7 separate regions of the Homo sapiens genome follow, and all the other regions are linked to region 1. The links come from fine-mapping of genetic effects on gene expression. A gene starts in region 1. Each other region holds a variant in brackets. All regions are shown on one strand. Distances are from middle to middle.

Region 1 (4,155 bases):
ACATGAATGGAACTGGAAGACATTCTGTTAAGTGAAATAAACCAGGCAGGGAAAGACAAATATCGCATGTTCTCACTTATATGTGGGAGCTAAAAAATTTGATGTCATTGAGGTAGTAAGTAGAATGGTGATTACCAGAGGCTGGGATGGATGGGTGGTGGGAATGAAGAGAGGCTGTTAATGAGTACAAAAATACAGTTAGATAGAAGGAATATCATAGGGTTTGAGAGCTATATAGAGACAAAAAAATAGGTAAGTGATTGCTAGGAAAGCGGGTGGGATTGAGTACTAATGGTTATGGAGATTCTCTTTTGGGTAATGAAAAAGTCCTAAAGGTAATTGTGATAAAGGTTGTACAACTCTGAAGACAAACTAAAAACCATTGTATTGCACACTTTAAATGAGTGAATCATATGATATATTAATTATATCTCAATAAAGCTGTTTAAAAAAGAATTCTGAGTGGAATTGGCCAGATACAAAAAAGACTAAGATGGCAAATTTTATGATATCTTACTCCAATTTTTTAGAAACATAATTCAGATCACGTTTCCCTAACAACTCTCCAACAGCTTCCCATCTCCCTCAGAATGAAAGCCCCAATTTTCAATATAGCCCATAAAGTCCTACACATTCTGGCCCCTTTCCCTTTCTGGCCTGACCTCTGACCTCCTCTCCGCTCTGCTCCAGCTCACTAGGCCTCTTAAGTTGCTCTCTGAACATAAAGAGGCAGGTTCCCCCAGGGCCTTTGTACTTTCTTCTCCTCCAGAGAACGTCAAGGTAAGTTCTCTCACTTCCTTGAGCTCTGGACTCAAAAATTCCCTTCTCAGCGAGGACGTCCCTGACCACTTATTGTAAAACTGCAGCTCCCTACAGCCCCCCACCCACAACACACACACACACTCTTCATCCCCCTTTCCTTTTTAATCTCTATTTTCACCTTCTGTCATCCTATAATTTTACTTTTTGCCTGTCTCTTTCCACTAAAATGTAAGCTCCAAAAGGAGAGAGATGTTTGTCTGTTTTGTTCATTGTTGGTATCTCTAGTGCCTAGAGCAGTCCTTAATAAACATTTGTTGGATTAATAAAGGGAGACCACTGTGGGGGAAAAAAAATAAAAGAAAATAAAATTTTAGCTGAAGAATGCAAGCCCCTTTAAATTATCAGGCCCAGAGAGGCATTAGAATGAAAAAACAGTCCCGTCTCACTCCCGGTCTGAGCTGGATAATTATCTCTTAAAGCCCACCTGCTATATGGGCTCTAGACTGGAACCAAGAAGCCATAAAATGCCATATGCTGGACACGATAACTCATACCCTATGAGTTACAGTGTACAGCCAATCACTAAGCAATGGTATCTCTGTAAACCAATAACAATTCCTGACCAACTTTGTCTCAGCCCACTCTTCCCCTTCGCCTTTAAAAACCTGCTTGTAACCAAGGCTGAAGGAGCACTCCCCAAGGCAACTGGGAAATGAGTCCTGGGCAGCTGTCCTCATTTTGGCTGAAGTAAACACTTTAAATTATAATTTTGTGCCCCAGCCTCTTCCTTTTAGGTAGACACCACTATTCAATGACATCAAGATCTGAACTGTCCTACTTATCCCAATATCCCACCCCTAAAAAGAAATGTACCGAACCATAAAAAGCCTGAAGTACTCCGACTTACAGACTCCTGTATTAGCATCCTAAGAATTATATTACCCTCTTCAATAGGGAGTAGTATTTTTCATATCAAACCTAGCCTGAGAACAACTGAGATTCAACTAGGAAAAAAAGAAAAGAAAATCCATTAAAGACTGAGTGATTTGAACTCAAAAATATCCATCATCACTTGCTAAATCATAGACAGCAGGTTATTTCCCTCGACTTTGCTGTGCAGACCTGTAGTGGCTCAATTTCTGCCATAATAAAGGCCGTACTAGAAAGAGCAATCCTAACTAAGCGCGCAAGGTAAACATCAAGCTGGGGCCGTCAGGGGCGGGGAAACACTTTCTGAATGGCGGAAGCTCCGAGAGACGCCTTTCCCAGCTGCTCCAGAGGGGAAAGGAAAAGGGAGAAAGTCTGTTTTTCCAGAATCTCCCAAACACAGCCCAGGGGCCTGCTCCGCGGGCCTAAGCGCCTCCACGTGTCTCAGAAGCCTAGCACTATAGATACCCCGGGGCACGGAGCTGGGAAAACGGGAATAGGAAGACACTTTACCCCGAGAAGATCCAGTCCAACAGGTCTTCTTCAGCCGGATGACTGTGGAGCGCCACCACAAGCAGGGCCTGCAACCCAGGCATCCAGGCTAGACACCAAATCAGCAAACTTTATTCCCGCGCTGCCGAGTACAAGCCGGCGCCTCCCCGGCGCACACAGTACACATCAGCTCCGGGAGACCTACCCGACCCGCCCCTCCAGCGCCGTCCCCGCCCCCGTTCCTGCCCCACCCCTTTCCCCGCCCCCGGCCCGGCTCGCCTTTCTCGCGGCGCTGCAACCCTCCCACCACAGCCCATCCAGCCCCGCCCAGCGCGCCGCGGTGCGCATGCGTGGAGGCCCTCGCTGCCGCTGAGCACCTCGGGAAGTGTAGTCTCTTCGCAGGTGCGGCTGGGCAGCTAGAGTCCTGCATCCCGGTGGAATCCGGAGAAGTGAGAACATTCCCGCCGCCCGGTCCTCATTCCCATCTTCCCACCTGTCCAGTCCCCTCGCACTCCCGCTGCACCCCACGCGCCGGGCTTCAGTCAGAGAGTGCACTGAGGAAGAGCGGAGACCCCCTCTTCCCCTCAGCAGGCTGTGCCGGGGGAGGCGGGGTCCACCGCCCGCCCCCCGCCGTCGCTCTCCCCGCCTCCCCTTCCCTCCCCTCCTGGCGGGTGCGGGGCCGGTGTCCGAAGTCAGGCGGCGGCCCCCGCAGCGGCCGCAGGAGGGGCGGCTGCGGTGGGCGCCGCGGGCGATGCCCCTGCCCGGCTGCTCCGGCGGGGGGCAGTGCGAGCGGCGGCGGCGGGGGAGGAGGCGGGGGGCGGCGGCTGCGGCGGCTGCAGCAGAGGGGCCGAGAGCTGGCGGTGGCGGCGGCGGTGGTCGTGAAGGGCATCGGCGGCGGCGGTGATGGCAGAGATGATGTGAGTGCCCGCCGGCTGGAGACCTGGGGCCGCGGAGCGCGGGACGGGCGGCGGCGGCGTGCGGGAGCGGCCCCGGGGGCGGCGGAGGGATGCGGGGAGCGCGGGCAGAGCCGGAGCGGCGGCCGCCAACCGGCCGGCAGTGGCTGGAGCCCCGCGCTGCGGCGCCGGGGGAGCCGGGCCCGGCGTGGGGGTCGCGGGCGGCGGCGGGGCGGTCAGGCCGAGGGGCGTCTGCGATTGTTCTCAACACCCCTCCCCCACCCCATCCCGTGTGTCTGTTTGTTACTTGCAGCTGAAGATGGAAAGAGCCAGGCGAAGGGGAGGCGGCGGCGGCCGCGGCCGCGGAGGCAAGAATGTAGGGGGCTCTGGCCTAAGCAAGAGTAGACTCTATCCCCAGGCCCAGCACTCCCACTACCCCCACTACGCGGCCTCAGCCACCCCTAATCAGGCCGGGGGCGCAGCCGAAATCCAGGAGCTGGCCTCCAAACGAGTGGACATCCAGAAAAAGAGGTTTTACCTAGACGTGAAGCAAAGCTCCCGGGGCCGCTTCCTAAAGATAGCCGAAGTCTGGATAGGGAGAGGCCGGCAGGACAACATCAGAAAGAGTAAACTGACCCTCTCCCTGTCTGTGGCAGCGGAGCTGAAGGACTGTCTAGGGGACTTCATCGAGCACTATGCCCACCTGGGCCTGAAAGGCCACCGGCAAGAGCATGGCCACAGCAAAGAGCAAGGCTCCAGAAGGAGGCAGAAGCACTCGGCACCCTCCCCACCAGTCTCGGTGGGGTCCGAAGAGCATCCTCACAGTGTCCTGAAAACAGACTATATCGAGAGGGACAATAGGAAATATTACCTAGACCTAAAGGAAAATCAGCGGGGTCGCTTCCTACGGATTAGACAAACCATGATGCGGGGGACTGGCATGATAGGTTATTTTGGCCACAGTTTGGGCCAAGAACAGACTATTGTCCTCCCAGCACAAGGAATGATTGAGTTTCGTGATGCCTTGGTTCAGCTGATTGAAGACTATGGCGAAGGAGACATAGAAGAACGAAGAGGTGGA
Region 2 (4,000 bases), 41 kb before region 1:
CCCAGAAAAGCATACATTAACTGCACTTTTTCGAGTCAGAATTCTTTCTATTCCAAGTAAGAGAATCACATTTCTACAAAGTATTTTTTGGCCCAAAATTACATTACCACATTCTAATTGTTCATTGTTCCAGAGCATTCCTGCTTTTAGAGATTTAATAAGGAAGTCATCCTGCAATTAAGGCCAGGACAAGGTCTGATTCCAAAAAGACATAGCCCCTGTATTCCAAGGTCTATTAATCTGTATAACATTTGATCCAAATTTTTTAAGTTACCTAGTGCTTTAACCATAAAAGAATCTCTAAAATTGGAATGCCTTTTGTTCTAATAATCTATTAATTAAGTAGAATTCTTAAGTAATAATCAGATAGTAACAGAAATGAGGCTACTAAATATGACATTGCTTTTGGTCACTATAGATTTCAAGTGACCAAACTATAAATGTTATTAAATCAAAGATACTCATTAACAGAAAGAAAATGACAACTTTGAATCTTAAATATTTTCCTTAATGTATAATTTATTTTGCTTTGACAAAAAATATAATATAGATATAATTTCAAAATGTATAATATGAATACAATTTCTATTCCTTTGTTTCATAAAACATCCTACAAAGCAGACAGAAAAGGCTTAAACCTTTGGATTCACTATTCAACAACTGGAAAGATATTTCTCAAATTTATGCATCAGTCTGTGTGTGTGTATTCAAGCAAATTTCTATGAGTCAGCCTTAATGAATAGTATTCTTCACATATAGGAAAATGTGATAAAAAAATAAACAGAATTGATTTAAGTTAAAAAAAAAAAAGGTAATATTTAACCTCCGTGGGTTTTCCAATTTACTGAAAGCATGAGGAAGATGCTTAGCCAGATCCATCACTTCCTCAGAGATTGAAGTCAACTGTTTGTTCATGTCGCTAAGTAGGATTTCTTCCTCTAGGGGGAAAAAAAATCAATATTAATTTTCAAACCACAAAGCAGAGATATTCATTTAGCCACTTCATTAAATAATATTAGGGATCAAATTTTCATTTTCTTTCCTTAAATGAATTCCAACAAAAAGACCTTCTTATTCAATCCCCAAATTGCCTCAATCACTTTCCCTCTCTTTCAAATTTTTACTGTTTACATTTAAAGTAAATTCCAAATGATCTGCAGTCATCTGTACTATAACCCAGCAGTTATTCACCTAGGCAGAAGGAGAAGGTGGAAATGAGAATCTGAACCTGTCTGTACTATTGCAAAATCAGAAGTCAGTATAACACCATGTATGCTGCTACTTAATAATACTGTTTAGTAAGCACAGCCTTCTCCAACAGTCATCCCTCATTGCCTTCATTCCCAGTCAGCACCAAAATAAAATGTAAGCCCTTCCTTTTTTTTTTTTTTGAGACAGAGTCTCACTCTGTCACCCAGGCTGGAATGCAGTGGCGCAATCTCGGCTCACTGCAACCTCCACCTCCCGGCTTCAAGCTATTCTCATTCCCTAGCCCCCGGAGTAGCTGGGACTACAGGCATGTGCCACCACGACCAGCTAATTTTTTTTTTTTTTGTATTTCTAGTAGAGACAGTGTTTCGCAATGGTGGCCAGGCTGGTCTCCAACTTCTGGCCTAAGGGATCCGCCCACCTTGGCCTCCCAAAGTGCTGGGATTACAGGCATGAGCTGCCACCCCCGGCCAAAATAAAATGTAAGCCTTTCTAATCAGTGATCAACTTCCAAATTCTCAACTTCATCCTGTCTGGTACATCATTTGCCATCAACAGCACAAAGCCTGCCCTGCTTTCCCAAACACTTCCCCTGCTTAGAATTTATTCATCATCATTTCTCTTGTCCTTCAAAAGCCCATCTCCTCTGAGGCCTATGAGACAGAGCTACAAAACCTGCTATTCCTGATTACTACAGTTATCTTGTCATCTCCAAACTGCATCCTTTCATCCCTTGGAGATCTTAGTGCCTGATTCATTAACTACTTTCACTCCACTACTATTCCTTGATCA[C/G]TGCCAGTGAGTTCAACATCCACAGGCCAGTTCCTTGACCCCTGCATTTCCGACAATCTTTTCTTCAACAGACCTTAGCCACTCAATTCCATAGTCATACCGTTGACCTTATAATTGCCAATAAAATCACCACTTCCAGACTACAACTGTAAGCCTTCCACCCTGAGAACACCAGCATCCCTATCTTTCCTTCCAGCATGCTTTCCCCAACAATACTTTGACACTTGCAGAACCAAATGCATTGATCCTATCACCTTTTCCTTACCTATCAACATCCCTACTCCCACTGCCCACTGAGCCTTCCATTCCTCTCTTACCCACATTACAGTAATCATTCCTTTGTATCTATACTCTCAACTCCTTTGCTCTTCCCTCCCTCCATGGTAATTACGTGGCAAAACCTCTACTCATAATAAAACCCACTTTTTTTACCTACCTGATGCCTACACCCAAGCAGTTGAATATAGTTGAAAATAAACACATCGATGATGACACAAGTTATTTTAAACTCATGACAGATTTCAAACGCACCCTCAGCAATGACTGTTAATTCTTCTACATTTCCCACTCTCAAAATGACTATTTCAAACCTCTTCCTTTCTTTGTGAACTTCTAACACCTGTTTGACCCTCCTATTACTCAGAGAACTTCACCTCTTATTTCACTAAGAAAAATGAAATAATAAGAGAATTACGTCTTCCCACTTTTCAGTTTGCTAATTATTCAGTCTTCAGATCTCTACTCCCATTTATAGCGAAATTCCTTGAAAGAGTTGTCTACACTCACTCTCTCAAATTTTCTGCTCCCATTTCCTCCCAAACCAACTGCAACTAAGCTTTTACCCAAATCAGTAGAGCAAAGCTGCTTTTGAAAAGGTTACTCTTGGGCCGGGCGCGGTGGCTCACACCTGTAATCCCAGCACTTTGGGAGGCCGAGGCGGGTGGATCACGAGGTCAGGAGATCGAGACCAACCTGGCTAACATGGTGAAACCCCGTCTCTACTAAAAATACAAAAAAAAAAAAAAATTAGCCGGGCATGGTGGCGGGCACCCGTAGTCCCAGCTACTCCGGAGGCTGAGGCAGGAGAATAGTGTGAACCTGGGAGGCGGAGCTTGCAGTGAGCAGAGATCGCGCCACTGCACTCCAGCCTGGGTGACTGAGCAAGACTCTGTCTCAAAAAAAAAAAAGAAAGAAAAGGTTACTGATGGCCTCCACACCATCAAACCTAACTGTTAGTTCTAGACTCTCATCTCACTCAACCTCCCCGAATGATTTAAAGCAACTGACAACTTCTTCCTATTCCAAACATTTTCTTCAGGTGGCTTCAGAACTAAACACCTCCTGTACTTCCCTCCTTCATTAGTGGCCCTCCCAGTCCTCTTTGCTGCTCTCTCCTCATCTTCCCAACCTCTAAATGCTGGTGTGCCCTTGAGGTCAATATCACACCTACTCTTTATTTCATTCACTCCCTATTTTATCTCATTCAGTCTCACTGCTTTAACTACCATCGGATCTGAATTACATCTCCAACCTCAACCTTGAACTTTGGGATCATATTTCCCAAATTGATCCCAAATATTGATATCTCTTGGATATCAATAATCATCTAAAACTTAGGATATCCAACACTGAAATCTAAAGTTTTCTCACCCAAACCTGTTCTTCTCATAATCTGTCCACTATAACTGACCTTTCCATTGATCAGATGATCTGACCAAAATATCTTAATGTTCTATGAATCTTTACATCTCACCCCTTACAGGGAATTCATCAGCAAATCCTTCACAATATATATCTTCCAAATACCTACAGAAGCTACGACTTCTCATCACCTCTATTGCTACCCGCCTAATCCAAACAATTATTGTCTATTGCTTGGGCTGTTACAATAGCCTCCTAACTCTCTGCCAAAATGCCCTGGGGCTAAATATTTTTCCTCTTACGACAACCAGAAAAATATTTCTAAAATAAAATTTTAATTATATCATTCTTCTGCTCC
Region 3 (4,155 bases), 140 kb before region 1:
TTTTCAGTGAAAATGGCAAGCCATGAAAAAAAGCAGCAAATTCAATTGGCAACTCAAATAATCAAACAAGTGCTTCTCCTGGAGACAGCCTCGTACCTAGGCATGCAGCAGACGTGTCTGTGCGTACTTGCCACTCCATCACACAGGATATTCACAGGGTATTGCAGATGCACACACAAAAGCATGCAAATGCAGAAGCCATGGCTGGACAACAACATATCACATATTTAATAGGCGCCACTACCTTCTGGTAATGCAATGCAGAAAAATGGGAATATACGAGACTTTTATATTTTAACTAAAAACAAATGAATATAAAAAAGTCTGGTGGGATACACAAAAGAGGTTGACTGTGATTAGCTACTAGTAAAACTATGAATGATTTTTATTTTCATTTTTCTCACTTCCCTGGATTTTCTAGTTCTTCTATGACAGATATATTTGTTTCTTAACAAGTTATTTTTATTTACAAAAAAGCCAATCAAAGGCTTTGAAATGGATGGTGAACTGCTTAAAGTTAAATAATCATCGTTTACCCAACTCTGTGTCACAGTATAGGTTTTAAATTAAGTCACATGTGCTACATAAGAGAGATTAGAATCAAATTCTGACATCCTGGAAAAATAAAGGTACTTAAAATAATTAAGTAAATGAAAGCTAAAAAATATATATATAATATTCAGTATGAAAAACATTGTTTTATTACTTGAAAAATAATAGAAATTGTATATAAAATACAAAATATACACTTGCCTAGTGCAATTGGTCTCCATTTTACATTTTTTACATGTTTTTTCCCTATTTAATGGCACCCAAAATGCGGTTTCATTTTCACTGCCCTGGTCAACTAATACCATTTAACAACGTATTTAAGAACTTCTTCAAAAGACAGTAAAAACAATTTGTAAAATAACTATGCTTTCTTACATTTACAAAACAGAATTTTGATAATATATGAATATTTTATATCACATAATTACCATGTAACTACTAATCTGTTATCTATATCAAATCAGAGCACATAACATTTTCCAAATACACTGTTTTAATAAAGAGATTAGAAAACAGGACAGTAACAGTTTCTTAAAGCAATCTTACAGGAAGTCTAATTTAATATTCTGTTAGGTGATGTACTCACGTAGGCTCCCAGAAGACCCAGAAACTACATGAATTGCGGAAGGCTGATTTAAGATGCCAGTTCTTCAATAAACAGTGAACTTTGTAATTAGAATGATTTTTAAGCCAAAATACTACTCCTTACTCTTCAGAAATAAAATATAGCTATCCTCTTATAATACAGCAAGAAACATAATTGTTCTGGTAATTGCCAGCTTAACTAAAAAGACCTCCCCTTTTCGTTTTGTCCATTAATTTCTTGCTGGTATCACTTCCTTTGGCAAACCACACAGGTAATCGTCTCTTTCTCTCTGCAGATGAAGTCTGTAGGAAATAGAAAGAAAAAGAAATCAAATCTTTGTACTACTGAGAAGGGGTATTAGTTGCAAAAAAGTAACATAAGTTCCTGAATACACACCCATCCTTTCTCCCCCATCCAAACAAAATAGTGGTATCTATATAATTTATTTCTGGATCAAAAAGTAAATAAATATAAGACACACAAAATCACTACATCATTTCTTCAGGCAATTACTTGCCATCTCATCATGTAGTCTTA[T/G]ACACTCAACACACCTCATTCAGTAAGTAAAAATCTGGACATTATTTCAGATCTGTGTCCCATGGTGTACTTGCTTTGAGTTGACCAAAATGGTGAATTTAATGTTCTGAGGAAGGAACATGCCTGGGCATGTATACATACACAAAGAGTTATATTAGGCATGTGAAAAGAATATAGCTTCTAACATCTACAACGGTAGGTAGACAGACTGGTCCAATCAGCACCCTGTAGAGTGGCCAAGGCATAGTACGCTTAACAAACATTCGCTAAATAAATGAAAAAAATAAAAGTTTCTTGTCTCATAGACTCATCTAAGAATCACTACAGATCCACTTCCCAGAAAAAAAGAGAAACATACACGTGCACAACACTTTCACACACATTTCAGCAGCTCACGTGCCAAAGAGCCTCTAACCCTCAGGTTAAACATCCTTGAAAAAAAAATAATTTAAGGCTGGGTGAGGTGGCTCACGCCTGCAATCCCAACACTTTGGCAGGATCACTGGAGCCCAGGAGGTCAAGGCTGTAGTGAGCTATAATCACGCCACTGCACTCCAGCCTGAGCAGAGTAAGACCCTGTCTCAAAAACACACACACAGGCACACACACACACACACACAAAGGTAGTGTTTGGGTACAATACCATCTGCACATGAAAAAAAATTAAATAATTTAAGTAGCTAAGTGTTTCATAAGCCTAAAGTGTCATACACTTATGTTATCTCAGAGTACTAGATCCTCAGGATAACATGACAGAGAAATCATTCCATCATGAGTACACCCTGGAATCCAGAGTTAATTTGGTTATTATTAATAAAAGTAACTGAGGGATTTTATGAGAAGGTTGGCCTTATCTAAGGTACAAGGTGTCTGTTAGCCTAAAATACAAAAATACCATTTATTCCATTTCAATAATGAAGACTATCTAGATATTGTTCATCAGCTGCTTGCTATGTTTGATTATATTCCCTATGTTTAAAAAAGGCTTTGAAATATTTAACAGTAGGAAAACAGCAAAAGATCCTTGGCAGAAGACTCTGAAACTTTATATTTAAAAAAGGTAAAAACTTAGCTGTTCCAGCTTAAGTACAGAAATCCAGGGTAGAAAAAAGGGCTTTTCACACATCAGCAAAGGCTAAAGAAAAAACTGGCTAAGATTGCAACTTTGTTCCTAGGTACCCAATTGCAAGCAGGGAAGAGAAAATCAAAAGAACGGATGAGACTTATATACACTGTAAGATACTATGACTTAGAAATAATAAATACTGGGGATATAAGGTGGCATACAGAAAAGGCATTTTGCATCTTTCTAATGATCAGTGATGTTGAGCTTTTCTTCATATGTTTGTTGGCTACATAAATGTCTTCTTTTGAGATGTGTCTGATCAAGTCCTTTGCCCACTTTTTAATGTTTTTTTTTTTTTCTTGTAAATTTGTTTAGGTTCCTTGTAGATTCTGGATATTGGGCCTTTGTCAGATGCATAGATTGCAAAAATTTTCTCCCACTCTGCCAAAAGAGGAGTACATCTGAACAGCAATAGAGCAGAGGAAGAAACCCTAAGTCATGTTGTAGCCTAATACCATGGAGTAGCACAGACTTTGAAACCAGGCAGAACCAGGTTTGAACTTTAATTGAGCCACTTGCTAAATGTATGACCTTATTATGCGTGTTACTTAAGCTTCAACGTCTTCACAGAGAAATGGAAATAATAGTACATAACATCACTGAATTCTTTGGAGTTAAATAAGAATAAATGTAAAATAGCAAAACACATCCTGATTTCTTCTTCAAACTCATTAATTGGTAGCGAATATCATTTCAAGTCTTATCTTCTATATTTCTATAAATATGATCATCAGCATTTATAATGGAATTATAATAATGATCTTATTTCATTGGGAAAAGCGGGGAAATGCTTACTTACACTAAGTGTGTCTTTTGAGTGTCAACAATAAGTATTTGAAGTCTTCAGTATGATATCTAAGTTACCTAATAGAAACAACGCCTTCCAGTGTCTATTTCCTTCATCAGTAGAACACTAAAATTCCCAGCAACAAAATTTTAAGGGGCTCTTTACATCTTTTTAATACTCCCAACTCTGTTACCAAGCTATTACCATTAAGTTACGAATAGGAAACATCAACTCATTTGCTGATTATATGTGTACATACGGATGTAAGCAAATACAGAAATATGTAAGTTACATTCACATTTAATTTCATTTATAAACAAGATCAATCCATATATTTAGTTACCGAGCCTGATACATTTGTCATGAAAACTATTTTCATAAGTCAATTTTACCTGTGAATGAGCATCTGTAAATAAATCTTCTACAAAACAATTTGTATAAAATATTGTGTATTTTAATTTATAATCAAACTCAGCGGTCAAGCAGGAAATGTCATACATTCTCTCTTATACAGTCAAGAAAAATAAGAAGAAAAAAATGACATAGGAGGAGAGGGTACTGGGAAGA
Region 4 (4,000 bases), 82 kb before region 1:
CTCTTCCTCGGACTTATAGTTACAGTGTGGATTTCATGTTGACAGTGTCAAGTTGTTGACTTAAACCTACTCATGTGCCTTGAACTTAAATCCTCCCAAATAAATCCTCTATGACACCCACTGAGCCAGTCCAATCAGGTCAGGAATCTCAACTGTAGAATTTCACAATAGCTGCATCGATACCCTTTCCCTTCTTCAGTTTCTCTTCTTCAAATCAATCCAACTTATTGCTGCCAGTCTAATGTTTCTATAATCCTATTATCTTATTTAAAAACACAGAGTAGTACATCAAGATGGTTTTCAAATGATTCTGCGGCACTCCAAGGATTATAAGACCCCAACAGGGAGTGTCTTCAAGGTCTAGAGACGAGACTCTTGTACCTCCTTTTCCCTCACATTAACTTCAGCCAGAGTTATTCTACTTTAATCCGTTTTACCTATTACAGAAAATTGTATCTAAACTAAAAATTCTAAGGCTAAAGTAGTCAGTGAAAACTAACAGGTATATGATACCAAGCCCAGACTGCTTCTTTGCAAGTTTTAAAGCCATCTATAACCTGGCCAACCGACCCATTCAACTGTTCTCTCAAGTCTCTAACGGTTCCACCCTGCCTCTTTGTCCATACTTTGTGCCATTCCTACCCCACATTGTCTTTCCCTCCAACCATTCCATACCAGTCACATTTCCTGAACCCAGTATGTGTTCTCATATCAAAGTGTCTTTGCACCTGCTAGTCCTTCTTCCTGGAATTCTATAACCAATTCCTTTCCCCTCATCACCTACTGGCCTGGCATACTTGAAAAACTTCTACTTACATGTTTGGACTCTAATTGAATTTTCCTGGATGGACCACCCCCATTACACAACTACCTTGACAGAGCTATTCCTCCCTCCTCTGTGCACCTAAGCACTAGGTACAGATTGCTATTTATACTAATCTGCAAGTTTGTTCTCCCACATTTATCAGAGGGACTGCTTTATGTTCAACACAAAGAAAGTATTCAATAAAGATCTGGTAAATAAACATTTGAGAAATATCCACTTCCACTATGAGCAACGGAGAGCAATGATGATTGATCCTCATACCTGAATTTCATCTCTTACAAACCTATGATGAATGTCTTTCCTTGTGCTAAAACTCATGCCCGCATGGTATGTTCCACAGGATAGATTCAGTTTCCTAAGTTCACCTGTAACTTGTTGTGTCATTTTTCTAGAAGGACAGTAGATGATTGTTGGACCTTCAAATTCCCAGTGGGAACTAAAGAAAAAGAAGAACAAAAGAGCAAACATATATACTTTATACATGCTTCAGACCCGTTTGGTTTTATCTTATTTAATTCTTCCTTTCTACCTTCTAAAGAAAAGACTAAAGGAAGAAAGCCTATCAAAAATAATGATATATTTAAGTGCATGAAAATTTAAAACATTATGGAGAATCAAATATCCAAATGAATTGTGTGAAGTCCCCAAAACTCAGTTTTGACTGTTTCAGTTCAAATTAAAGCTAAAACCAGAAACAAATTTATTTGTTTTAGCTGAAACCTTGATAAAAACTTATAAACGACAGATACAAATACTTTGGGGAATGCAAGGCACCAGATTAACAATTAGTCTGGTGAGGGTTTACAAAGGAGTGTGCATAAAACTTGTTACACTGTTCTTATTCTTGCTTATGATAATAAAGCTGAGTTTCTAAATGTTTACTAAAGCAAGAGCTTTCTTATAATATTGAAAG[AT/T]TGCTTTTACAGTTCAAAGAAGTATTTACTAGTAATCTTGAGACTGAATGTTATAGAAAACATCTGTTAGAATGTATTTTGTAGAAACTTGTGCTTCTTTATTAAAAGCGTAAACGATTTCCATAGAAGTATAAACAACTTAAATGTTCAATTTCCACAGAATATTTTACTTAACGCCTAAAAATATTCATTTACATAAGTGCATTCATTTATGCTGACAATATAAAAAAGACTATACTATTTTAGATTTAGGAAAAGTTAATCAATTTCAAGTGCATATAACTTTTGATCCAATTTCAATTTTAGGATTCTAATTTACAAAAATATTTGCTTATTGGCCAAAAGATAAATGTAAACAAATATTCACTGCAACATTATAATAGTAAAAAGTCATCTAAATGTTCATCATTATCTACACTCATACTAAGAAATATTAAGCAAACATTTAAAAATTAAACATTAAAAAAATTATAAAACCTTTAAGGACTGTGGCAAAAGCCACTGAAAACTTAAGCAGAGGAAACAAGGCAATAATTTCACTACAAGAGTCATACTGAATAATCTGTTCAAATCTATTTTTGACAGCAACCAAATGGGCTTCAATATCAAAAATTCACAGTGAACTACTTAATGGAGTGAAAAATGTAAGTTTTCTTTTAGTGTATAAAAATCTTATTTTAAGGCCAGCACAGTGGCTCACGCCTGTAATCCCAGCACTTTGGGATGCCAAGGCGGGCGGATTACCTGAGCTCAGAAGTTCGAGACCAGCCTGGCCAACAAGGTGAAACCCCGTCTCTACTAAAAATACAAAAATTAGCAGGGCATGGTGGCATGCACCTGTAATCCCAGCTACCCAGGAGGCTGAGGCAGGAGAATCGCTGGAACCCAGGAGGCAGAGGCTGCAACGAGCCAAGATCCCGCCACTGCATTACAGCCTGGGCGACAGAGCAAGACTCCATGTCAAAAAAAAAAAAAAAAAAACCTTATTTTAAAAACATGTTTTCAAAGAAGAAAAAACTACTCAACAAAACCTAGATATTGTAATATCCTATATATTAAGGCTCTAATTTAAGAAAATGCAATATATGGAAAGATAGCAGATACTTTAAATGAAAAAAAATTTGCATAAATAATGGATATAGTATGCAACTATTTCTGTATCAACTTAACAACAACAAAAAACTGCAACTATATATCTGCACAGTAGTAGGGTCAGAGAAAGGAAGTCTACATAAATGCCAAAATACCAACAGTGATCACAACTGAGGTACGGAATTAGAAAATTGGAGTCCTTTTCAATTTATATGCAACAGTGTTGCTCAAATTGATATTGACTACATATCACTCTTTTTTAAAAAAGGTGGAAAATATGTAAAAATTTGAACTTATGTAACAGATAAATCAAAAGAGTAAAAATTCCTATTACAAAAGGAGCCATTATTTTGCCAAGTGATTTGCTACAGACTTTTATTTCCTCTTAATTTTCTGAGGGGAGAAAATTCTAATCTAATCTAACCACTAAATTATATGAGAGACTCATCTATCTCACTTAAATGTACTATGAATATATTATAATTAAGACTTTAACAAAATAGGGTTAGTTTAAGAAACACCTTAGCTCAATGGATAAAAATACTTGAATACTGATAAACAAATTAAAGGAATTTAGCAGAATTAAAGGAAGGGAAGAAGATGGAAATAACGGGCAATGCTCTGAAGCCTTAATTACCCTCTACCTCACTGCTCATGAAGAGGAAAGTTTCTGTTCACCTAAGATCTGTAGAAAGCATTCTGACTCTCAATGGTTTCCTGCTATCCTAAGTCTTCTTGGAGGATTAAAAATGGGTACAAAAATCTTTCTTGATCTCCTTAAAAAAAAAAATTCATATTAAATACCTAGATCTTCAATACTGTTGAATGTTACACTGAGTCTGGTCTTTATTTCCTAGTAAGGAGTTCCAGAAAGGTATTCCAGACTTAAGGATGTGTTTGCAGACAATAATTTGTAAACTGCATAGAAAGCAACAAGGGGCACTGGGGAGAGGGGTATCTGTTGGGGAAATTATAATAGTCTCGGCTAAAAAGTAACAAAGACCTCAATTAGCAGAGTCAACATGAAAAACAGAAAGAAACATTTGCATAGGATTATAAGAGGACCAGGACGTCAGAAAACCAGGAGAACAATATTACACACAAAAAAGGCAAACTGCTTTAAAAAGGAGAGTGTTATTATAAGGGAAAGTGCCATAGAGAGTGTTAT
Region 5 (4,155 bases), 54 kb after region 1:
ATGAAACCCTCACCACAATCAAAAGAATAAGCACATCCTCAGGATCTAGGAGAATTTGAAAAATAATAATAATAAAAAATATATTGATGACCCAAAAAAGTTTCCTTCCCTGGCCAGGCGCAGTGGCTCAAGCCTGTAATCCCAGCACTTTGGGAGGCCGAGGCGGGCAGGTCATGAGGTCAAGAGATCGAGACCATCCTGGCCAACCAACATGGTGAAGCCCCATCCCAGCTACTGGGGAGGCTGAGGCAGGAGAATCGCTTGAACCTGGGAGGCGGAAGTTGCAGTAAGCCGAGATCACGCCACTGCACTCCAACCCCAGCAAAAGAGCGAGACTCCGTCTCAAAAAAAAAAAAAAAAAAACTTTCCTTCCCTCTCTGACACCCATTCTGAGCCTATCACCAGGCAACCACTGACCTACTTTATATCAACATAGGTAACTTTGCATTTTCTAGAGTTTTAAATTGACTCATATAATATGTACTATTTTTTAATCTGGTTTCTTTTACTCAGCATATTTATTTTGAGATTCAGCCATATTGTTGTATGTATCAATAGTTCATTTATTTATATTATCCCATGGATATGGATATGCTGAATTTATATGGATGCTGAATGTGTTCATTTATTCATTTATTGATGAACATTTGGCTTAATTCAGTCTCTGGCTATTAAAAATAAAGCTCCTATAAAAAGTTGTATTCAAGTACTGTTATGTACATTTGCTTTCACTTCTCTTTGGTAAACACCTAGGAATAGAATGACTGGATCACATGGTAAGTATATGTTTAACTTTTTAAGAAACTCTCAAACTATTTTCCAAAGTGCTTGTTCCACTTTACATTCCCACCAGCAATCCTTCAACATCCCCACCAATACTTGGTATGGTCGGCTTTTTAAATTTTCACCATTCAGATAAGATGTTGAGGCATCTCTTGTGGTTTTAACTGACGTTTCCCTAATGACTAGGGATGTTGTGAATCTTTTCATATGCTTATTTACTATCCGTATATCTTCTTTGGCCGAGTGTCAAATCTTTGTCCATTTTTGGTTTGCCCATTTTTTGATCGCCTTGTTTGCATTTTAAGAGTTCTTTAAACAAGTTCTTATATAGGATTTGCAAACATTTTCTCCCACTCTATGGCTTGCCTTTTCATTTTTTTTTAGCAATGGCTTTCAAAGAACATTTGAATTTGATTTCATTTTGACAAAGCTCACCTTATCAATTGTTTCTTTTGTGAACTGTGCTTTTGATTCCATAGCTAAAATCTCTATGCCTAACCCAAGGTCACAAAGATTTTCTCCAATGTTTCCTTCCATAAATTTTATAATTGTATATATCATGTTTAGGTCTATGACACATTGTGTACACAGTTTTAGCACATAGTTTAGGATATAGGTCAAAGTTCATTTTGTTGCAAAAGAATATCAAGTAATTCTAACACAATTTGTTGCAAAGAATGCTCATTTCCATTGATTTACCCTTGCATCTTTGTTGAAAATCTGTTGTCCATATATGCATGGCTCTATTTCTGGACTTTCTATTCTATTCCATTGATATATTTATATATCTAGGTGCCAACACTCCATTGTCCTGATAAATATGTCTTGAAATCGGAAGCATTAGTCTCTCAACTTTCTTATTCTTTATAAC[A/G]TCATTTTGGCTATTCTAGGTCTTTTGCATTTCCAAATGAATTTGAGAGTCAGTTTCCCAGTGTCTAAAATAAAGCCTGATGGAATTTTTGAAGGGATTGCATTCAATCTATATATCAATTTGGGGAGAATTGAGATTTTAACAATATTGAGTCGTGAGTGTTATATACCTCTCCATTTATTTAGCTCTTCTTTTTATCTCATGAGCTGTAGTTTTAAATGTATACATCTTGCACATCTTTTTCCAGGTATGTTCCTAAAATTCACAATTTTTATTTTACTCTCATTCGTGTTGTTTTTATAATTTTTCTTATTGTTCATTTCTATCCTATAAAATATAATTGATATTTGTACATTTTGTATACAATTGATTTATTTTTGTGTCTTGCAAACACATATGTGTGTATGTATGCATGAATTATTGGACTAGACATACTTAATAGTTGGCAGAATACTCTACATTTGTTACTTGGTTTGGGGTAAAATTTAACAAAATGGGAACTAGAAGTGTCCCCCTACCACCTTGGAATGATAGTAAGTTAAAAAACAGTATCATATCCAGGGAGGAATGTCAGAGATTAATTCTATTCTTAGAGACCTAAAGGATGCAGGGATTAGTGGTTCACATCAAACATCCACTTACTTCTTCAATCTAGCTCCTACAAAAAAATTGGATCTTGGAACATGACAGTGGACTGCCTCAAACTCTAGTATAGTGGCCCAAATTGTACCTGCTATGTCAGATGTGGTATCTTTGTTGGAGCAGATTAACACTGCTTCTGGTACATGGTATGTGGCCACTGAACTATCAAATACCTTCTTTTCTGTCTCAGAAAGACAGATTCGAAAATTTATATTCACTTGGGACTGACTATATGTTTACTGTCTTGGCACAGGGCTATGTCAAAATATGGCCCAAAGGGAACTGAATTCTCTGGCCATTCTGCAGAATATCACCTTGGCCCATTGGATTGATGACACTATGTTGGTTGGTCCAGATAAACAAAAAGTGGCAAGTGTGTTGGAAGCTTCAGTAAGACACACATTCCAGACAATAGAGAAAAAAAACGCAGCAAAGTTTCAAGGGCCTACTACATCAGCAAAGCTATTCAGGGTCAATGGTCTAAGGCATGATGGGATATCCCCACAAAATTGAAGGACACATTAATGTATGTCACACTTTCCACCAGTAGCAGGGAACCAAAACACCTAGAAGGGATCTTCAAATTCTGGAGGTATCATATTCTACACTCAGAAATACAGCTCTGGCCTATTTTTTACCAAATAACAAGGAAGCTTCCTGCTTTGAGTAAGGCCCAGAGTAGTAAAGGGTTCTGCAGCAGATCCAGCCTGCAGTACAGATCTATCACTTTGCCATTTGACCCAGCTAATCCCATGCTGTTAGAGAAATCTGCTATAGGCAGATGCCATATGGATTTTATTCCAACATAAGAATCACAATGCAGATCCCTAGGGTTCTGGGCCAAATCATGCCGTTTGTAGCAGGTAATTATAAACCATCTGAAAAGCAGCTGCTGGTATGCTATTAGGTTCTGGTAGAGAGGAAATGCTTGGCTGTGGGACAGGAATTGACCATGTGTCCAGAACTACCCATCACAAACTGGATCTGTCACACCCACAAAGTTATAAGGTCAGGTGCATTCAGCAGCATTCCATTCTAAGATGGAAGTTACACATTCAGGATGGAGCACATGCAAAGGGCAAAAAGAAAAAATAAGCTATACGAGCAGGTGCCCCAGCCCCCATGTCATTCACCACTATTGCACCAGCACCTTTCCCTCAGCTCACACCTGTGACTACATAACAGGGCCCTTGTGCACAGTTCATAGAGAAGGAAAAAGACAGGGCTTGGTTCATGGATGATTCGGCTCAATATATGGGTACAAGTGAAAAATAGAGAAGGGAGATCCTCCCAATGGAGACAGCTTCTGTTGGTGAACCTGGGGTCATCCACTTTGTGCAAAAGAAAAATGGCCCAAGCTAAGACTATGCAGACTCATGGACAGTGGCTAATGGTTTGGTTGTTTGGTCAAGACCTTGAAAGGAGAAGGACTGGAACACTGGGAAAAAGAAAATCTGAGGAAGAGGTTTGTAGACAGAAAGACTGGAGTAGTCAAGACATGTTATCCACCAGAGAACATCAACCAAGGAAGAGGCACTACAAGACCAAGTGGCTAGAACAATTCACACACATGCCTCAGAGACCCAGAACCTTTTCCTCAAGGAGCTTATCTATGACAAATACACACACTTTAGTCCTTTATCTGATTATATTTAGTACCAAACAGTGCATTTTCTTCCAAATTGCAATTCTGATCACAGAAGAACTTCAATACTTTCCCCTCCATATTTAGTATGGTACCATTTACATAAAAAGAGAAAAAATATTACTGCCTGTACTTGTATTTGCTTTAGAACTTGCATTTTAAAAAATATTACTGCATGTACTTGTATTTGCATAATATCTGATATGATTTGGAT
Region 6 (4,000 bases), 89 kb before region 1:
ACTCCAACTTCCTTTTGATTAATGTTTTCATGGAATGTAATGTTTCATTCTTTTTTAAACCTATCTATATAATTACAGTGGATTTCTTGTGGACAACGTACAGAACAGGGTCATGTTTTTAAACCAATTCTTACAATTTACGCCTTTAAATAATATTTTAGATCATTTACATTTAACATAACTATTGATATGTTTAGATTTAGGGCTACCATTTTATTGCTTTATCTATTTTTTAAGCAAAATACTTTAATATTGTTTGCTTTCTCATATCTAAACACATTCATTGTTTTGTTTAAAAAACTGAAATACTTATCATTCAACAAAAATTCAGTTAAACATGAAAAGGAAGAGAAAGAAAGACTTTTAGAATGTCCATCTATAATAAGAAATCTTTACCTGGACCTGCAATTATCACAGCATTTTTCAGTTCCCATAATTCCCAAGGAGGCTTTTTGTACTTGTTTGTCCTCAAAATGAGACAAGATGATTCTACCCAAGACAAAATTTTAAATTAAATAAAAGAACAGAAACGTATATGTTAAGTTCATTCCTGAAAATAATGAGGTAAAATCACCATTAATTGATTCACTTGGGACTTCATTATTTGACTTCAGTTTACTCAGACACAAAGAAGTTAGCCTTAAAAATTCAGCACACATGTAACAGCAACAAAATATTTTTTCAAAATACTGATAATTATTTAGCCAAATTGTTGTCTTAAAAGAGCATCATCCATAAATCCATACTATTGGCATAAAATAAATAATACATACTGTCTCCTACATCTGCTAGAATGAAGATATTTTTCCATCTTTGCCATCATCTTTAATTTGTATAATCGAAACTTCTCATTACGTATCTCAGTAAGAAGGTGCCTGTCGATTAAAAACATCACAGGAATATGTAAAACTGTATTGGCAACTTTCTTACTTTTTTTTTTACTTATTTTTTACTGTTTATTTTTCATTATCTACAAAACCCACACCCCATCAAGATAAAAAAACATTTCTAGCATCTCAGAAAGTTCTGTTGTATTCCTTTCCAGTCAATGCCCCCAACAAGAGGTAAACATTTTTCTGATTTTATAAAAATTGCTTTTGAAAAAAAATTCTTCCTGTGTCCAAGTATCAATTCTTTAGCTGCTTTGAAAAAGTATCAAAAACTCTAAGGTTTTTCATTTCAATTTACATGTCACACACTTTTTGGCTTCAAACAATGCTTCTACAATTTATTAATTTTTACCTTTTCCCAGTAAAAAGGTTATTCTTTATTTTATTTTGTATGAGAAACTAAAAGCATTGACGTAAGGAACACTGAAAGAAGCTCAAATTTGAACCTTTATCTCTATCAGCTCTTCAGGACTTCTCGCCCTCCAAAACTGTCTCTTAGTATTATGGGTTATTATGGGACACCAGTCAAGTATTAGAATTAAGTTCCTTTCTCAATCGATTATAACTGATTTGTTTGCCATATCAAATTTATTCAAAATTGTTAAATAACATTAAGGAGGTGTTTGTTTTTTAAAGTCAATGCAGCCATAATTCATCATGACTCTGTTAATTTCTAGTCTTCTGTGAAGAAAGCCCATGAATATCAAATATCAGATGATGACAATCTCCCAAATAGCTTTGCATATCTTTACAAGAACAAATGAAAGTCCATGTTAACTAGGTTTCAGATATTTCAAAAGAAAACAACGATTTACTTATAATATCTAAGGGACAGCATTAGTAAAATCCTCATCAAAATAGACTTCACTCACTAATAATTTGACTATTCAACCTTCTGACTGATTAAATACCTCTGCATAATTCTCAAGGAGTTCTGGAAAGTCTGAAGACACAAATGATCCGTTATTCAAAAACATTCTTGTCATCTGAAACGACCACCCACCATGCCCTTCCATGTAATTATCCCCAAAGTCTCTTCCAACTGTTGACTCTAGCTCCTAGGTTAACCATATACAGTTCCTCCTTATCCACAAGGGATACATTCCAAGACGTCCAGTGGATGCCTGAAGCCGCAGAATAGTACCAACCAAATCCTGTATGTATTATGTTTTTTCCTATATGT[A/G]TATACCTATGAAAAAGTTTAATTTATAAATTAGGCACAGTACTCTTGTGCTTTGGGGTCATTCTTAAGTAAAATAAGCGTTACTTGAACACAAGCACTGTGATACTGCAACAAGTGACTAACAGACAGGGAGTAAATACAACGTGAATGCACCGGACAAAGGGATGATTCTAAGGGAAGTCGAGGCAGACTGAGTGGGATGGCACAAAATTTCATTACAGTACTCAAAGCCACCACTGATTTAAAATTTATAAATTGTTTATTTCTGGAATTTTCTATTTAACATTTTGGACGTGGTTGTGAGTAACTAAAACATAGAAAGTGAAAATGCAGACAAGGGGGTCCACTGTAATCTCATTCTTTCTACCTCAAGGGATAAAAATCAGTTCTTTTTTGCTTTATTTTGTTTGTTTAGTTCACCTCGTTCCCCTCCTATAGAAAAAAAAAAAAAAAAAAAAAAAAACAAGAAAAGAAATGCCCACACTCTTCAGAACTGGGTCCTTCCTTCCTTGTATTTGGTTCAGATGACCTACATTTAACTAATCTCGTCAGTGTCAGGACAAATTTGAGAAAACAAAACTACAACTCTTAACGGCAAATAAATAAATATTTATTTTTCTTTTGGGACTACAAAAATAAGTCCAGTATTCCACAGAATAAAAACAACTTGAAAATTAAAAAAATTCTAAACCATTCATGGCAATCATTTGGATCCACTGAAAGATCTACCGGACCGAGATTACTCTGCAAATTATTCTCTGTTAAAAAAAGATTACAATAACTTTGGGGTTTGACTATTTAAGGTAACAGCAAATGCAGACATTGGGACTTTGCCTGTGGTATGAATTCTGCAATTAAAAACATAAATTTACATGAAGATTACATGATGACTGGACAAGTTTCTTCTCTCAGTGATAGAATTATGGCATAAGATAGACTCTAAAAATTTTGTGAGTAACTGACCTTTCCAGGTGAGAACCAGCAACTTCATTTATTCTTAGACTTTCTAGTTTTTTCTAGAAGAGGGTTGTCACCAGGATGATACAGATCCCTCCTGAATCCTTGCTCAATTCTTTTTTATCCTGATTAATCCTATAGTTTTAGTTTCCTCAGGATTGATGCAAAGGGTAACCTGTCTATACCCAAAATTCAAGTATGGGTTTCTGGCACCACTATTTGATTTGAATCACTGTTATTTCCTGTTAAATCTTAATGAGATAACCATTTAAAATATCTTTTAAGACCCAGAGAAACAAGAATTGTATTTATTGATGAACCTTCAAATGCACAATATAAAACTGGATATTAATGTCCTCAGTACCTTTAACAAAATACACAAATAAAATCAGAACTGGTAGGAATCAACTTATGTTTGATATATTCCATATTTAATAGTAACATGTACAGCTGTGTTCTATCCCAATTATTTAAATTAGATCATAAGAAGCTTGACAGATACAACTGTCTAAAGGAAAACAAGAATTGTTATGTACAAAAAAAGGATGGTTTTGTCATCTTCTATGTTAAGAAGGAAAAGCTACTGACTACTCAGAAGGAAAATCTTAAAATTTGCATCAAACATTTTTACCTAATTAATTCCTATTCTTCTTTCAGATTTGAACTATCACTTCCACAAGGAAGCCTTATCTGACCTTTTTAACTTGGGAAATACCACACACCATTATATATTCTTACTACTCAGTGCAATTTCCCTTCATTACACTTAACACAGTTATAATTTTAAATATGTTGCATGATTCCTTTTTTACAAAATTTTGATTGTTGACATTTTCAAACACAAAAGGAGAACAGTAAAATGAAGCCTATGTATCCATAGTTATGTGATTCTCTAAAGAATTACCATTCCCATTATACTGAATTCTATGGAAGCAGGTACTTTGCTTTTCTTTACTACTATATCTCCCAC
Region 7 (4,000 bases), 100 kb before region 1:
TGCCAATATCTTGGGAAGCCAAGGTGGGCGGATCACTTGAGGTCAGGGGTTCAAGACCAGCCTGGGAAACATAGGGAGACCCTGTCTCTACAAAAAAGTTAGCTGGGCATGGTGGCATGCACCTGTAGTGCCACATACTCAGGAAGCCAAGGAAGTAGGATCGCTTGAACTGGAAACTTTGAGGCTGCTGTGACCTATGATCATGCCACTGTACTCCAGAGCCTGGGTGACATATCACATTCTTTCCCTTTATAAACCAGGTGGAAAAATAAGGGTCACCAAAACTGACATATCATGGAATGTGGAAATCTAACTGATCGGCTAAGTGTTAGAATAAAGAGAACTGACTGGCCAGGGTACATGACCCAACGTATCAGTTTCCGGTAAAAGCAAAGTCTTTACAACGGTATCTGACAGAGAAAAAAAGAAAAAAGAAAAAGAAGAGAGAAGAGAAGAGAAGAGAGAAGAAAAGACTTGCCACTTCTCCATATTAACTTCTTTAAAAGTCACAGTTGCTTTTTGTACTGTGAATGCCATTCTTCTCCACCATTCTTCCCTCATTCCTTCTCTGAGTGAATGTCCAAATCCACAGTATCACACCAAAATCTACTATATATTCCACAAAAATAGGAAGTTCTAGTGATACCTTCACAAAGACTCCTCTAATTTCTCTAAACACTCTCTCTCTTCAGAACTTCAACAGCATTTATATGTATTCATACGTCCCTTATCTAATTCTCTGCTACATTACACTCATTTCTTCTTAAGTAACATCTTCCATAATAGATGATGCGTCTCATCTAATTTAGCTTTGAATCCCCCCACAAAATGTAATACAGTGCCTTATACAAAAATACATGTTTAATAACTAGTGGAAAAAATAGCCATAAACTCCAACTCAAGAAATTTTAAACTCAGCCTGGCACAGTGACTCTCGGTGCTTTGGGAGGCCAAGGGTGGTGGGTATCACCTGAGAGCCCTGGAGTTTGAGACAGGCAGGGCAACATGGGGAGACCCCATACCTACAAAAAAATTAAAAAATAAAAAAAATAGCTGGGTGGGGTGGCACCTGTGGTCCCAGCTACTCTGGAGGCTGAGGTGGGAGGATTGCTTGAACCCAGGAGTTCAAGGCTGCATCAAGCTATGATCACACCACTGCATTCCAGCCTGGGCAACTCCTAAGTTCTGAAACTACAAAAAGCCCACAGCTATTGTTAAAAACACTTTAACTTTTTTTGGTGGGGGGGCTTGGGGGAGGACGGGGGTGCTTTTTCCCAGTCCCTACAGGCCAAAGAAGCTCACAGCTGCAACTTTAGAGCTTCAGAAAGTCATTGTGAACTATAATTCTATGTGCAAAATAAAACCAAAAGATGAAGTAGTGATAATTATCTCTAGGAATATATTTCATTCAGATGAAACAGTTTGTCTAGAAAACAGGATGGATAATCCTCTCCCGTTAGATAGTTTGAAAATTACAAGAGTGATTAAAACTACCAATAGTTTCAACAAATGTCTATAGTCAAATCATGTATTATCAAAACTACCGTCTAATTCTAGTGCCACGACAAGATTTGGCATTCTGCTAACGTGATCAGAAGAGAAGTTTCACTTAATCTGTCAGTTATGTAAATTAATGAGTGTGTTTTTATTTTCTAATCTATAAAATTAAGGTCATTGCATATCTTATCACATATTTATACAGAATGTTTAAAGATTTTTATACAGTAAGTTGTTCAGACAGCTAAAACGAAGTTCCTTAAGTAATAACTTCACTGTTTAATTTCTAATCAAATTTGCAGCTTCAAAACAAAATTTTAAACTCTATTCACAAACTCCTAGATAGGCTACATAACTGTTTATACTATTCAGAAAAATCTTGTGTAAGACAGAATTATATGCTGCTACTATGTTA[T/C]ATATTTATATACATTATCTCTTTAACTAAACTCCAATTATTCCCAGTTTAAAATGTTTATTTTACAGCTCAAAATCATGTACAAAGATATTAATTTTTCCTAAGTTGGTTAAAGGGAACATTTCACTAAATTCTCAAAGGAATTATAACGATAATTTTAAAAACAATATCCCAGGATACCAAGATCACTGAAATGGGGAGAAAAAAAAACAATGCCTTATTTTCATTGCATTTAGTGTCTACAGATTTTCATTAAGTGGTACTTTTAGAAAAGTTTTATCTAGCAAGGGTAGTGTAATATTTCACAAAGGATAGACTTCTTAATTTGAGGACTCCCAGAAGAGACTGTCAGTGTAAGTGGTCTGATTTGGTTTTTTAATAGGTGAAATCTGATCTCTCTTGTGGCCAGTTCAAGTTTGTCAAGGAGCCTACTTAGACTTATTTGTTGATACTGGATATGGCTGGATTACACCAAATTAAAACAAGAATAATTTTTATAAATTATACATTCAACTGAGATACACAGGTTCTGAAGGTGATAGAGACAGAATACATTTTCACAGATCTCAATTATATTTAAGCTGTCCCTTACAACTAAAATTCTTGTTATAAAAAATACAGTTTCACTCACAGCACCTAAAATAGTCCTTAGGCAACACTTCTACTATTAAATTTCTAATCCAACTTGTGATTTACAAACAAAATTTTAAACTCCATTTAGAATCTAAAAACATCAGTACATGAAAAATCAACAGAAGTTTTCAATATATTTCATTAAAAATATTTCACAACTAATTTAATAAATATGTTTCTTTTTTTTTTTTTATTGAGACAGAATCTTGCTCTGTCGCGCAGGCTGGAGTGCAGTGGCACAATCTCAGCTCACTGCAAGCTCCGCCTCCCACGTTCACGCCATTCTCCTGCCTCAGCCTCCAAAATGTTCCTTTCTAAAAATACAAACTCAGAAAGTATTTACATGAAGCATTCGAGTATTTCACAAATAAATGCTTACCTATTCTACATTCAATACGAGAATTTTAATCTCTATTTTAAAGTACATTTTTAATAAATATGCATATTTGCAAAGTATCCTATCTCTTGCTCTTGATTTATTCAGCCATTATCAGTGTGTAATACTTAGCTTTGCTTTATAGACTTCTAAATCAGGGGAAAAAATCATATAAAGGAAAGGACTACAGAACAAGCTCTTGGACTGCAACGGTCCTATCTTATTCACATTTGTACCCGTGGTTGTTTAGAAGAATACTGGAACATCAATCACTCCAAAAAAAAGTAACTGAATTTAATTGATTATTTATTCATTAGTAAAGGCAAAAACCACAATTTTCTTATAACTTTAAATACTTCTGATAGGAAACAGAAGGAAAAATAAATATGTCCCAAATATTGTTACTGAAATTAGACATTTAAAAAATAATCCCTATAACTAAAGTTTTCCTTGAAGAATTTAATGGTTTCCTGGACAAAAGGACAATTTTGTTCTACCTGTCCCTTGATACAATGAAAGTTAACTTTTCCTAATTATCCTAAGCAAGACTAGTCTAGGGATTCACCCAAATGCAATGTGATAAATTAACACAATGCTTCCAGACTGAGCTGCAGAGCTGAACATCGGCTTGAACATGAAAACAGCAGAAGATGCCATACACACGGGTTTTATCCAAAGTAATGAATGTAGTGTTTAACTGGAACTTAGTAAGACTCTATGAGTTCCTAGTCACCCATCTGAAGTCAAAGCTACAATCATAATACTGCAAACCTCTGAAGAAAAGTGTAATAGAAGTAAAAGAAGATCTATGAAGGGAATTCACAGATATATACTTACAGATCCTCGGAGAAATAAAATTGGAAGCCCAATTCCAAATTTTTCGCCTAAGATGTCCACAGCAGACAAAAGCTTAAATGCTTGTGGACCAAAGTCCCAGGATGTATCCTCTGAGTCATCCATGGAATAGCAATGATCCAATCTAAATAAAAATAATAACATTTGAAGAAAGCTTAGCAAAGGCATGTATCTTTAGAAATCAAAAGATTTAGCATAACAATTAGCCAAGTAAAAAATATCTC

Direction of the effects. Positions count from the first base shown, and alleles are read on the strand shown. Sizes are in standard deviations (SD) of each study's normalised expression. Not every link is listed here.
In carriers of allele AT in region 4, the expression in memory regulatory T cells of the gene that starts at base 2,366 in region 1 tends to be lower than with T alone (large effect, 0.94 SD a copy in Schmiedel 2018).
With allele A in place of G in region 6, the expression in fibroblasts of the gene that starts at base 2,366 in region 1 is lower (moderate effect, 0.41 SD a copy in GTEx).

The links. PIP is the estimated chance that this variant, and not a neighbour inherited with it, causes the effect.
Region 2: its variant is the best candidate, but not a certain one, in a credible set for the expression of WRN in whole blood (TOPMed, PIP 0.60).
Region 3: its variant is the best candidate, but not a certain one, in a credible set for the expression of WRN in esophagus muscle (GTEx, PIP 0.60).
Region 4: its variant is the best candidate, but not a certain one, in a credible set for the expression of WRN in memory regulatory T cells (Schmiedel 2018, PIP 0.86).
Region 5: its variant is the best candidate, but not a certain one, in a credible set for the expression of WRN in caudate (GTEx, PIP 0.81).
Region 6: its variant is the best candidate, but not a certain one, in a credible set for the expression of WRN in fibroblasts (GTEx, PIP 0.52).
Region 7: its variant is the best candidate, but not a certain one, in a credible set for the expression of WRN in whole blood (INTERVAL, PIP 0.72).

The regions. Positions count from the first base shown.
Region 1 is chr8:31,032,021-31,036,175 of GRCh38, reverse strand. WRN (WRN RecQ like helicase) reads right to left here and starts at 2,366. Exons shown (of 35, transcript NM_000553.6): 1 at 2,203-2,366. PURG (purine rich element binding protein G) reads left to right here and starts at 2,820. Exons shown (of 2, transcript NM_001323311.2): 1 at 2,820-3,098; 2 at 3,388-4,155. The coding sequence starts at 3,394. RefSeq lists enhancers at 1,209-1,258, 2,092-2,613 and silencers at 1,329-1,398, 2,369-2,628, 2,789-2,838.
Region 2 is chr8:31,073,111-31,077,110 of GRCh38, reverse strand. It overlaps WRN (WRN RecQ like helicase), which reads right to left. Exons shown (of 35, transcript NM_000553.6): 8 at 824-938. Among named protein-coding and RNA genes, the nearest start is that of WRN, 41 kb to the right of the region's middle. The variant C/G (reference allele first, on the strand shown) is at 2,002.
Region 3 is chr8:31,170,280-31,174,434 of GRCh38, reverse strand. WRN (WRN RecQ like helicase) reads right to left here. Exons shown (of 35, transcript NM_000553.6): 35 at 1-1,440. The coding sequence ends at 1,333. Among named protein-coding and RNA genes, the nearest start is that of WRN, 140 kb to the right of the region's middle. RefSeq lists an enhancer at 1,187-2,386. The variant T/G (reference allele first, on the strand shown) is at 1,676.
Region 4 is chr8:31,113,616-31,117,615 of GRCh38, reverse strand. It overlaps WRN (WRN RecQ like helicase), which reads right to left. Exons shown (of 35, transcript NM_000553.6): 20 at 1,088-1,262. Among named protein-coding and RNA genes, the nearest start is that of WRN, 82 kb to the right of the region's middle. The variant AT/T (reference allele first, on the strand shown) is at 1,740.
Region 5 is chr8:30,977,837-30,981,991 of GRCh38, reverse strand. No RefSeq gene overlaps it. Among named protein-coding and RNA genes, the nearest start is that of PURG, 53 kb to the left of the region's middle. The variant A/G (reference allele first, on the strand shown) is at 1,655.
Region 6 is chr8:31,121,397-31,125,396 of GRCh38, reverse strand. It overlaps WRN (WRN RecQ like helicase), which reads right to left. Exons shown (of 35, transcript NM_000553.6): 22 at 774-875; 23 at 397-489. Among named protein-coding and RNA genes, the nearest start is that of WRN, 90 kb to the right of the region's middle. The variant A/G (reference allele first, on the strand shown) is at 2,074.
Region 7 is chr8:31,132,265-31,136,264 of GRCh38, reverse strand. WRN (WRN RecQ like helicase) reads right to left here. Exons shown (of 35, transcript NM_000553.6): 24 at 3,759-3,900. Among named protein-coding and RNA genes, the nearest start is that of WRN, 100 kb to the right of the region's middle. The variant T/C (reference allele first, on the strand shown) is at 1,913.